Linked DNA regions of Homo sapiens. The protein of the gene in region 2 purifies or fractionates together with the protein of the main gene of each other region. This does not show direct contact. Each region holds a gene or a part of one and is shown on either strand. Other genes may lie near its edges.

Region 1 (2,998 bases), on a different chromosome or scaffold from region 2:
TCCCGCACAGCCAGCCACTGTGCCGCATCAGTTCTCCCACTGGCTGTGCCCCAGGCGCACCCGGCAGGACCCCAGCAAGCCTGCTCGTTGCCCATGGAAGTGAGTGTCCAGAGCAACAGTCAAAAGGAATGTGCCAGAATGTCAGAGATGGTTATCTGGGCTGGGTGGGGTTTTGTTTTTGTTTTTTCCACTTTACACATTCAGTTGTTCTAGGACAAGCACGTAAGAAAATAAGCCTGGGCACGGCGGCTCACGCCTGTAATCCCAGCAATTTGGGAGGCGGAGGCAGGCAGATCGCTTGAGCCCAGGAGTTAGAGACCAGCCTGGGAAACATAGCAAGACCCCCATCTCCACAAAAACAAAAAAAACAAAAAAATAAAAATGATCAGGGTATGGTGAGAGGCGTCTGTACTCCCAGCTACTCGGGGGGCAGAGGCCAGAGGATCATTTGAGCCCAGGAGGTCGAGGCTGCAGTGAGCCGTGATCACACCACTGCACTCCAGCCTGGGCAACAGAGCAAGACCCTGTCTCAAAAAAGAAAAAAAGAAAAGAAAAACTGTAAGCTATGTTTTGAAAAGAATATTGGTACTTCTAGAAAGTTTCCTCCGAGATGAGAATTTTAAAAACAAACAAAAGCTGTCTTTTTTTTTTTTTTTTTTTTTTTTGAGACGGGAGTCTCACTCTGTCACCCAGGCTGGAGTGCAGTGGCGCGATCTCAGCTCACTGCAAGCTCCGCCTCCCGGGTTCACGCCATTCTTCTGCCTCAGCCTCCCGAGTAGCTGGGACTACAGACGCCCGCCACCGCGCCCGGCTAATGTTTTGTATTTTTAGTAGAGATGGGGTTTCACCGTGTTAGCCAGGATGGTCTTGATCTCCTGACCTCGTGATTCGCACACCTCAGCCTCGCAAAGTGCTGGGATTACAGGCATGAGCCACCGCACCCGGCCAAAAGCTGTCTTCTAAGGGGAGCATGGGAGCTGGAGCGTCAGTGAGGCCCCCGCCAGCCATCCTAACCACCGCTCCTGAACACCATCCACTGTGGAAATTCTGGGCAGGTCCTGCGTGATGGGGAGCCCCAGTGCACCCCGTGTTAAGAGCTGGTGCCTGCAGCAAGGGCCAGAGGACAGGCCTGCCCGGGTTACGGCTGGCACACACTTGGTGCAGGAGCACCCGGTCTGACTCGCTTCAACACTGGCCAGTTATTTGCCGCAAGCGGCTGTGACTTATGTCATTTTTACAAGATGTTTTCAAATTATTATAGGAAGCTTTGAAAAATGATGGGTTAGGGCTGTGAGGCATAAAAGTTCAATCCAGGAGCGAGAAGGATGTTTTGTGAGTGGTGAGAGCAAATATCTCAGGGACGGCCCTGCATGCCAGGCATAGACTGACGTGCCGGCCCAGCCTCCCCAGTGGTGACACCATGACCAGCCAGAGAAGTGCAGGGTCAGCATTCTCCCAGGAACGCAGCCCTGGGCCTCGCCCAGACCCCTGGATGTGGGGGACAGGGCTGGCTCCAAGGAGATCAGGGCCATGGGGCCGGCCCTCAAGCAGCAGCCCCTGCTCCCTGCTAGCACCCCGGGCCAGACGCCTGCCTGCAGGGAAAGGCCATGACGGGCAGAGCAGGTCTCCCGCACACCTCCTTTCACAGGAGGAAGTGCAGGTGGCAGACCAGCCACCTCGGCCGTGGGCCACGTGCTCGCCCTGGGTGCTGCGGGGCTCAACCACGGAATGTCAATGGTACAAGGACGAGATCCCATGTGCTGGTGACACCTCCCCATACTCCAGGGCAGGGTTCCGAAAGAGCAGGCACCATGGCCTCACTTGCTCCTCAAAGGACTAGCCCTGGGCCTGGTGCTGGGAAGAGGAGGAAAGAGGAGACAGAAGGGAGGAGGGGGAGGGGGAGGAGGGAGGGAGAAAGAGGAGGAGGGAGAAGGAAGGTGGGGGAAGAGGAGGAGGGAGGAGGAGGAAGGAGGGAAGAGGAGGAAGGAGGGAAGAGGAGGAAGGAGGGAAGAGGAGGAAGGAGGGAAGAGGAGGAAGGAGGGAAGAGGAGGAGGAGGGAGGGAAGAGGAGCAGGAGGGAGGGAAGAGGAGGATGAAGGAGGGAGGGAAGAGGAGGGAGAAGGAGGGAGGGAGAAGGAGGGAGGGAAGAGGAGGGAGGAGGGAAGAGGAGGGAGGAGAGAAGAGGAGGGAGAAGGAGGGAGGAGGGAAGAGGAGGGAGGAAGGAAGAGGAAGAGGAGGAAAAAAGAGGGGGAGGGGGGAAGGAGCCATGCCACGTCCAGCCAGAAGCCACGTGGGACACATGTGAAGCACCGTGGAGGAGACAGGCTGTTCCTACAGCCAGAGCCCACCAAGACCACGGGGACTGGGCTGCAGAAGGCACGAAGCCACCCACCTGTTGAGACCCATGCAGATCTGTCAAGGTGGCCCATGAGGCAGCAGTGCAGGCAGCGTCCCCCCTTGGCTGGTGCCCTAAGCAGCCTGCACTCAGACGCTTGCAGAGACCAGCTGCCCTCTGATGACAGGCAAGGCCACAGCAGGGCTGAGAAGGACCACGGCATTTGTAACACAAGGGAGCAGAGTGGGCATCGGGACCCTGCCTGAGGGGCTGTGGCTGAGCCTGGGTGCGTGCGCAGGTCTGGGGCCTGACACGTGTCCCCATGCAGGGCTGTCCCTGGGGCAGGTGTGCCACCGAGGGGCTGCGCTCAGGTCTGTGGCCCGCCAGACAGGCTCTTGACTTCAGCACACTCCTTTGGGTTCGTACCTGCTACTATCTTTTTAATTTCAGCTGCTCGTCCCGTTGAGAGGCATACGGAAGAAAGGCAGAATAGGAAACCGTGAAAAGTCTTTTTCAGAAAGAAGAAAATCAAAAGAATCAAACAGGTTCAGGTAACAGAGCATAGGAATTGGAACCAACAAACATGGCCAGACTAAAACCGGAGACAAAACCCCACATGCCCGAACTCCTGAAGTGGCTCAGAGCTCCGGGAGCCCAGGGGGCG
Region 2 (2,213 bases):
CAACAAACACATTAATTATCACCAGCTGTGGCTCTCACCAGAGGCATATTGAGTCAGTTACTCACCTATGGTCTCCACAATCTCCGCCTGGAGGTGGGGCTCCAGGTGTTCCATCGTAATTTCTTCCCGGGACCATCCAGCCTTGAGCAACTTTAGGACCACCTCATTGATTATATCGCCCCTGAGATTACTGAAAGAGACAAGAGCTTGTTAACCCATTTGTTTATATTTAGCTTCCATATATGTTATCTCACCGCTGAAACCAATGCATTAGTGCCTGGAAGAATAGAGGCTGAGGGGCGTGGACCTTCTCTCTCTTCCAGGAGACCTTGTCACAACCTCACAACCCAAAGGTCTGCACAGAAAAGACACTGTCCAGTTTTGCCACCCATTCTCTCTTGTTCCCTCTTGACACACACTTACTGAGACTGTGCTAAGTGCAGGGAGCATGAAAAGATGGTAAGATATGGTTCTTCTGTGTGGTCTGAGGGGCATCCGTGTATTCGGTTCCAGGACAGTGTGGCAAGCGCTAATGGAGGAGTGACTGAGTTCTAAGGAGAAGGCTTCAGAGGGAGGATGAGGCTTCTGAGCAAATAAAGACCAAGTAGTGATCATCAGACACTTGGCAAGGAAGGGAAGTGTCTAGGCCTGGGTGCGCCAGAGGAGCACAGGCATGAAAGGCTGGCTAAGGTGAGGAGGGCTTTGTCTGCCATTTGCATGGACTTGAGCTTATGGATCATGGAGAAGGGATGGAAAGGAGGATTTAAGAATTAGTTATGGAGGCACAATTGAAAAACCCTGTAACTGATGGATGTGAGAAGTGAAAGGAGGTCATCAAAGAACAAGCGTTAGCCTCAAGCTGCTTGCTGTCCCCCTTAACAGAGGTGGAACACGGAAAGGTGGAGATGAAAGTTTGGTTTTACACACGTTTGAGTGTTTTTTGCTTGCCTGTGATCTCTCTCAGGTTGTGATATCACTGGGCAACTGGAATTACGGGTCTGAAGCACAGAAAGTGATTTGGGTTAGAGATAGGAGGGAGAAAGGGGATAAGGAGAGAAGATGCAACCGTAGAGCCACCAGCAGGGAAGCTGGGACAGAGGTAGTGGAGACTTGGCCTTCCTCCGCCCTCCACGGCCCAGGCATACTTCTCCCCCACCTCACTGCACTCTCCTCCCCTCCCTGGGCTGCAGCCTCAGCCAGCTCCACCAGCTCCTTAAACCAAGTCCTTGCCCAGCTCCACATCAATGCACTTGCACTTCCCCGTGCTTTCTCTCTTTTTGGAGACAGTCTCATTCTGTCACCCAGATTGGAGTACAGTGGCGTGATTTTGGCTCACTGCAGCCTCCACCTCCCCAGGCTCAGCTGATCCTCTCACCTCAGCCTCCTAAGTAGCTGAGACTGCAGGTACATGCCACCCTACCCAGCTATTTTTTTTTTTCTTGAGACAGAGTTTCACTCTTGTTGCCCAGGCTGGAGTGCAGTGGCGTGATCTCAGCTCACAGCAGCCTCTGCCTCCCGGATTCAAGAGATTCTCCTGCCTCAGCCTCCCAAGTAGCTGGGATTACAGGCACATGCCACAATGCCCAGCTAATTTTTTTAGTAGAGACAGGGTTTCACCATGTTGGCCAGGCTGGTCTCAAACTCCTGACCTCAGCTGATCTGCCCGCCTCCCAAAGTGCTAGGATGACAGGTGTGCCCGGCCCTATTTTTAAAATTTTTTTGTAGAGACGAGGTCTCACTATGTTCCCTAGGCTGGTCTCAAACTCCTAGGCTCAAGTGATTCTCCCACCTCAGTCTCCCAAAGTGTTGGGATGACAGGCATGAGCCACTAGGCCTAGCCTCCCTTGCATTTTCCTCAGGTCCAGCAGAATGAGGGAGGGTAAAGGACAGGGAAGGCAGGTGGCAGGTTAAGGAGTGGGGAACCAGTATCTCCATCTCTTTCCCTCCTTACCCAGCTCTGAAAGCCCCCATGACACCTACCAGTATATTAGCTCACATCTTTGCTCATTTAGCCTGTGACCACACCCTGTTGACTAGGCTCCATGGGGGCTGCTGGGAAATGAGGGGAGCTGTGTGGTTCTCTCCCTCCCTGCCTCCACCATTGCGTAGAGGCTAAGGCTGGGCAGGCGTCCTTCCCTGCCACGCAGGTTAAGCCCGGACAGCCAAGTTGTCTAGCTAGGTGCCTCATTGTAGGGGGAGGTGCTAATGTGTCT
Region 3 (3,500 bases), on a different chromosome or scaffold from region 2:
ACGCCCAGCTAATTTTTCTATTTTTAGTAGAGACAGGGTTTCACCATGTTGGCCGGGCTGGTCTCGAACTCCTGACCTCAAGTGATCTGCCCACCTCAGCCTCCCAAAGTGCTGGGATTATAGGCATGAGCCTCCACACCCCAGCCTCAGTAATTTTTTTTTTTTTTGAGACAGAGTACTGCTCTATCACCGAGGCTGGAGTGCAGTGGTGCCATCTTGGCACACTACAGCCTCCACCTCCTGGGTTCAAGTGATTCTTCTGCCTCCGCCTCCTAGGTAGCTGGGATTACCGGTGCCTGCCAACATGCCTGGCTAATTTTTGTATTTTTAGTAGAGACGAGGTTTCACCATGTTGGCCATCTGGTCTTGAACTCCTGATCTCAGGTGATCTACCTGCCTTGGCCTCCCAACGTGCTGGGATTACAGGCCTGAGCCACCGCGCCTGGCCTAGTACAACTTCTTTAAATCATCACAAAGAGGACCAGGTGCGGTGGTTCATACCTGTAATCTCAGCACTTGGAGGCTGATGTGGGAGAACTGCTTGAGGCCAAGAGTTCAAGAACAGGCTGGGCAACACAGTGAGACCCCATCTGTACAAAAAAAATAAATAGAATTGGCTGGGCATGGTGGCACATGCCTGTAGTCCCAGCTATTCAGAAGGCTGAGGCAGGAGCACCACTTGAGCCCAAGAGGTTGAGGCTGCTGTGCTGTGATGGCACCATGGAACTCCAGCCTGGGCAACAGAGTGAGACCCTGTCTCAAAACAAAACAAAACAAAAACAAAAACAGTTGTGAAGGGCCTCAAGCTTTCTTTGATTTTGGGCAGAGCTGTGACCTCTCCTTCTGTTCAACCTCCTTACAGAGTTCAAACATCAATTCCCCACCCAAGTGGCCTGCTTCCTTGGGTTGCAGAGATGTTCTTTACATCTCAGTGCCCACTATCAACTACTTCCTCGGTCTCTCTCTTCAATTCAGATGTATCAAATATTAATTTCATTTTTGCCCCCTCTTTAACACAACTTCTGGAAGCATCTCTTGGCCCAGAGCCATTTAGGTAAATTGAATAGAAAAGGGCCACCTCTGTTTGCCCTTGAGAATGCAGATAACAGGGATCTGACAACCCAGGCAACAGCAGTCCCCCATGGAAGAGCAGAGAGCTCTTCACCACCACTCCACAGGTTTCTGGAGACCCCGGAGCACTCATCAAATCCAGCGTTGGTGATAATGACATTTCAGTCAACCACGGACTGCGCATATCAGTGGGTGCATACGATTATAATGGAGCTGAAAAATTCCTATCACCTAGTATTTACATTGTATTTTATTTTTCTGAGGCAGGGTCTCACTCTGTCACCCAGGCTGGAGTGCAGTGGCACAATTATGGCTCACTGCATCCTCAAACTCCCGGCCTCCCAAGTAGCTGGGACTACCGACCCATGCCACCATGCCCAGCTCGTTTTTTTTTTTTTTTTTTTTTTTCTTTGAGATGGAGTCTCACTCTGTCTCACAGGCTGGAGTGCAGTGGCGCAATCTCGGCTCACTGAAACCTCTGCCTCCTGGGTTCCAGCAATTCTCCTGCCTCAGCCTCCCGATTAGCTGGGATTACAGGCATGCACCACCACACCTGGCTAATTTTTGTATTTTTAGTAGAGACAGGGTTTCGACATGTTGGCCAGACTGGTCTCAAACTCCTGAACTCAGGTGATCCGCCCACCTTGGCCTCCCCCAGGTAGTTATTTTATGTAGAGACGTGGTCTTGCTGCCTTGTCCAGGATGGTCTCAAGCTCCTGAACTCAAGCAATCCTCCTGTCTCGGCCTCCCAAAGTGCTGGGATTACCCATGAGCCACCACCACACCTGGACTGATTTTAACTTCTAGTTTCCATGTACCTGCTTATAGCTAATTCCTCTGATCCAGCATAAAACTTGGCTGTTCTCTACACCAGTCTTTCCCTTAAGAAGAATAAAGGCTGGACAAGGAGAAATCGGCCTCTAGGCCTCACACAGGCTACCTGAATAACTGGAGCTAGCAGCAGATAAGGTCAGATGGGTCAGATGCTGCTACTGACATCACACTCTATCCTTGGGACCAGAGTTTCAAAGTGGTGCTAGTGGTTTAAACTCAAAACACCCTTAGCATGACCAGACTTGGAGGAGGCTGTCCACCAGACTCCTGCCAGCTGCCCCGCCTCACAGAAAGGCCTATCGTCAGCCCTCCTGGGCCACTGAGAACTCAGGACATCCACCTCCCACCTGTAAAAATGCAAAGGATCACAGGCAAGGCTCCCCTGTGGGAAGAGGGTGACTCCCAGGGAGGAGCATGCTTCGTGCTTAGACATCTCCGTATACCAGCTCAGCCACCCAAGGAAAGGAACAAAGTCAAACAATGCTTATCAAGTCCTTGTGATAACACAGAAAAATGCCCAAATAATATATCATAACTATGTAATAAACTAAGATAACAGATGCAAGCAATAACTGCTATTAACATCTACATTTGTCTGAATGACATAAATTGGATGGGTTTTTTGTTTCAACTCTTCTGTATTTATTATACTCTTACCTGTTCCAAAAATCATTTGCAGCAGCTTGGTTTGAATTTTCCATTGATAATACTTTTACAAAACACAACCTGGCTGTAGCCATAACTGCCTCCAAGAGAGACAACTCACCCCCCTTCACTCTCAGCATCTGTGAACGTGGCTCCCGAGGAGGCCGTGAAGTAGACAGAGCTGGAGCCAGTGGAGTCACTCCTCTCCCGGACAAACGGAAACCTTCGCCGCCGAGCCACTCTCTGGTTCTCTTCCATGTGGCATCTGGAAAGCAGGCCCCATCCCGAAGGGTACCATTAGGTCCCATCCAGCTTGTCTTTCTGCTCACCATGGGGTGCCTCTTACTACTGCTCCTCATTAAAGGGCTAAAAGCAGAGAAAATCCTAAGTCTCTAACCCTCAGGAGGGCAAGCAGGGCAGCTTCCTGGGCCCAGCCCGCACAGACAGACTAGGTTAGGCAAACAGAGCGCTTCAGCTGCTACAACAGATCAACCATGAGAGTCCAGAAGCAGCAAGGAGCATGTGCAAGGCGAGGTACCAAATGTACAGCTTCAACCCAGATTAGGCTAGAAGCTATAGAACTGGTTTATTCTTTAGAGACAGACAGCGAAGGCCAGAACACACCCCAGCTGAAAAGCTGCAGGGGAGGGATAAAGCAGGAGAAGAAGCCGCATTACTCACCGGACCTCCCCAACAATCTCCCCCGCAAGCCCTCGCAGGCTGCTTCTCAGCTCCTCCACCTCCCGCCGCAGCGCCACAAGGCTGGTCAGCACAAAGTCCAGGCGGTCCAGCACCTTCTCCTGTCCTTCCCGTGGAAGGCTGGGCAGCACTGAGGCATCTCCAGCCCCACCTGGGACAGCCCGCAGGAGCATCACTGAAGGGGGAAACGAATGGGAGCCAGTGACACACAGGAATATGGTGGGGAAGAGATCTCACACCCAGAATTCAAG
Region 4 (3,500 bases), 820 kb from region 2:
ATCTATTTAGAAAATAAATTAAGCCGGGCACAGTGGTTCATGCCTGTAATTCCGACAAATCAAGAGGCTGAGGTGACAGGACAGCTTGAGCACAGGAGTTTAAGGCCAGCCTGGGCAACATTGTGAGACCCCATCTCTAAAAAAAAAAAAAAAAATTAAAAACAAGAAAAGAAATTAAAAATGATCCTAACCCTTCCCTTTCCCTTCCATCTTTCTTAGCATACCAGCAGGTTTTAAAATCTAAGAGAGGAAATGGAAGGACAGGCTTCAGAAGGTGGAGAGGCTGAGTTATCTCATTTGTATGACCTATATTACCAGTATTGCCGTCTATCACTTGCCTGGAGTTTTATAACTTTTGTATATATAAATGAACTTCCTGGTGGATCTTCTTAGCGTTATATCAACAACTTTCATTTGAGAAACACTGGAATAACTGGAGGAATAATATTAGCCCTGCTAAGATTCAGAAATAGCCTTATTTTTGATCATATGACAAAAAACTCCATAATGATGTAGTAAGACAAAATGACAGCAACTGTAAGAGGAATACTGTTTTTCAATTACTAGTTTAGCTTAGGATATTTCATTATTTAGAAGCTTCTAAGTTAGGTTATCGAAGTTACAACTAAAATAACAATAAAAATACCTAACCACATGAAACCCAAATCCATCAGATAATGTTTATTTTGAATACTTCACTCCATGGTTGCAAAGATCAAATGAGATAATATATACAAAAATGCTGTGAAGTGCAATTCTATGATGTTAATGATGAAGGACAGCTAAATAATAATTATGTACCATATATAATATTTATATAATTCATATAACACAAACACATACACAGCAGGGTATATACTGCCAAGGCAGGACATTGTCCAAAGTATAACTGCTATCCTTTTTATCAACATTACTAGAGATGCTAACAACAATTCTAAAAAACATCTTTTTAAAAGAAAAAACTCAGCTGGGCGCAGTGGCTCAAGCCTGTAATCCCAACACTTTGGGAGGTCGAGGTGGGTGGATCACCTGAGGTCAGGAGTTTGAGACCAGCCTGGCCAACATGGTGAAACCCTGTCTCTACTAAAATACAAAAATTAGCTGGGTGTATTGGTGCACCACCAGCTACTTGGGAAGCTGAGGCATGAATGAGAATCGCTTGAACCCAGGAGGCAGAGGTTGCAGTGAGCTGAGATCACGCCACTGCACTCCAGCCTAGGCAACAGAGCAAGACCGTTTCAAAAAAAAGAAAAAAGAAAAAAGAAAAAAAAAAGAAAAAAAAGAAAAAAGAAAAAAAAAAAGAAAAAAAGAAAAAGAAAAAACTCAAGCTTTTCTAGTCTAAAGAGTATGGTGATAATCAATCACTCTACAACCATCAAGAGTAGAGGGCACAAATCCTCCATAGTTGCTATTGATTCTACAGAAAACATTAACAATAAATAAGCCCTGATAATTATGAGATTTTAGACTTTAAAAAATTGTGTTTACACATATAAGCTCATTACAATAATCTAGTTATAGGCACTACTGTCTCTAAAGGCAAGAAAATTGAGGTTCACAAAGGTTAAGTGATTTTACCAAGATTACTCAATTAGTAAGTGGAAGAGCTAGGACTGGAGCTCAAGAGCTTTAACTCCAAATTGTCTTCTTTTCTCTATCTAAATTTCTGAGACAGGTTCCAAAACATTTATATTAGTTCTCTGACCTCTCCATGCACATATATTCTTCTCTATAATCATTGTTTTATCACCTGGCAAACAGGAAAAAGTAAAGACAGTGGTTCCATCTTTCCTAAAAGGTTTGGATGCAGGCAGAAGCCTGAACTGGGACCTGTCTACAGGAAACTGTTGCTAACGTCGGGTGACAATGTTCCATGGGGTAGAATCTATAGCCTAAGGTTCTTGAACACTCAGCTCTAAAAATGACTTTTTTTTCCTCACCAAAGCGGGCAGAAATATATAGTTAAAGAATGAGAGATAAAATGTGGAATGCTAGGAAAACATTTTTTTAATATTCTTGAAGAGGAATCTATTATATAACAGTGTTTGAAAAATCACTGTAGTCTTCCACTTCCATTGAAAATATTTTCTTCTTGCTCATCGTTCTATCTTAAAGTCCTCATGTGGTTGAAAGTCTAAAAGATCCTATTACATGCACACTTCTGGTGTGTTACTGTTACATAACTCTGAAAGCTCAATGTGGTTATCTATATATGGTAGGTGGTTAGCAACCAATGTATAATTCTGTAAGCCATAATAAACATAGTAACTTAAGACAAAGTAGAAATGCAAACAGATAAAATACTAAAAATTAGCTATCAATTTAGCAACTAAAAAGATCTATTTCTGCATTTCTATTAGATGTTCAATATAATTATGTTTCCTTCTCTATTGCAGTGTCTTATTAGAGGAAAAAATTATGCAAAGATTTTCTGATAAGTATGTACTAACTTCACTTATCTGGAAGTCATTTATCTGATATTAATTACTCAGAATGTACAGTTAAGAACTAAGAAATGACACAAGATGCCTCTGAGCTTTTCACATTATATACACTAAAACTCATGCATTTTTACATCCAAGAGTATCTCTTGGGTCTTCAAATTTAATTTTAATGTTTGATCCTGGTTATAAACATAATTCTAATAAGCTGAATAATTAATGTTTGGTTTCCTAACTATAATAGGTCAGGAAGAGCAAATTATAAGAGGAAATGGTTTTCTAATAGCAGGCACATAATCACAGCAATAAGAAATGACAACCAACAGTAAGACAAGGGCAAAAAGTTATTTCGGTTCTAGACTGCTTAAGAACTCACTTACATGTGGGCTAAAAACGTCACTGCTGAGAAAAAATGAATTATGACCACTCCTACTTTACTGATGGAAAAGCAGAGCCACGCATGTCATTTGGTCCAATTACAGTTAATCATCCCATGAGCAAGAGATATAAGATGTGGATTTTTACATTACCTAAATAAAAGTAAGAGAATACCTGATGACCTCAAGACCTATTGTGGTTAGATGAGTAAAGTAGGGAGGTTAAAGGTCACTTAAGGCAGAGAATATGCATGGACTTTAAAAAAATATGGTCGAGATTTAACGTGGACGCATTTCCATAGAAATTATAGAAAGTGAGTTCAAAGTACGATGGTTTTATCACATCAATTTATAGTATTCCTTAAATTCTGTGACATTTAATCCATCCAAAACCTAAACATGAGGCTGGGTGTGGTGGCTCATGCCTGTAATCCCAACACTTTGGGAGGCTGAAGCAGGCGGATCACTTGAGGTCAGCAGTTCAAGACCAACCTGGCCAACATGGCGAAACCCCGTCTCTACTAAAAGTACAAATATTAGCTGGGCATGGTGGCGCATGCATGCAAGTCCCAGCTACTTAGGAGGCTAAGGCACAAGAATGACCTGAATGTGGGAGGCGGAGGCTGCAGTGAGCTGAGATTGTGCCACTGCACTCCAACCTGGGCGACAGAGGGAGACTTCA

Evidence for each region. Proteins that work in one complex are often made in the same cells at the same time.
Region 1: the proteins of TOR3A (region 2) and SLC38A10 purify together in Homo sapiens (co-immunoprecipitation; one large-scale study listed by IntAct). This does not show direct contact.
Region 3: the proteins of TOR3A (region 2) and RMDN3 purify together in Homo sapiens (affinity purification with mass spectrometry; one large-scale study listed by BioGRID and IntAct). This does not show direct contact.
Region 4: the proteins of TOR3A (region 2) and TOR1AIP1 purify together in Homo sapiens (co-immunoprecipitation; one study listed by IntAct). This does not show direct contact.

Annotation. Positions count from the first base shown.
Region 1 is NC_000017.11:81,247,310-81,250,307, forward strand, and holds part of SLC38A10 (solute carrier family 38 member 10), read right to left. Parts: intron 2,785-2,998; coding exon of another isoform or gene 2,761-2,784; intron 1-2,760. UniProt on the Homo sapiens protein: Facilitates bidirectional transport of amino acids. May act as a glutamate sensor that regulates glutamate-glutamine cycle and mTOR signaling in the brain. The transport mechanism remains to be elucidated.
Region 2 is NC_000001.11:179,092,070-179,094,282, reverse strand, and holds part of TOR3A (torsin-3A precursor), read right to left. Parts: intron 191-2,213; coding exon 66-190; intron 1-65.
Region 3 is NC_000015.10:40,748,755-40,752,254, forward strand, and holds part of RMDN3 (regulator of microtubule dynamics protein 3), read right to left. Parts: intron 3,425-3,500; coding exon 3,232-3,424; intron 2,917-3,231; exon of another isoform or gene 2,816-2,916; coding exon 2,672-2,815; intron 1-2,671.
Region 4 is NC_000001.11:179,909,785-179,913,284, reverse strand, and holds part of TOR1AIP1 (torsin-1A-interacting protein 1), read right to left. Parts: intron 1-3,500. UniProt on the Homo sapiens protein: Required for nuclear membrane integrity. Induces TOR1A and TOR1B ATPase activity and is required for their location on the nuclear membrane. Binds to A- and B-type lamins. Possible role in membrane attachment and assembly of the nuclear lamina.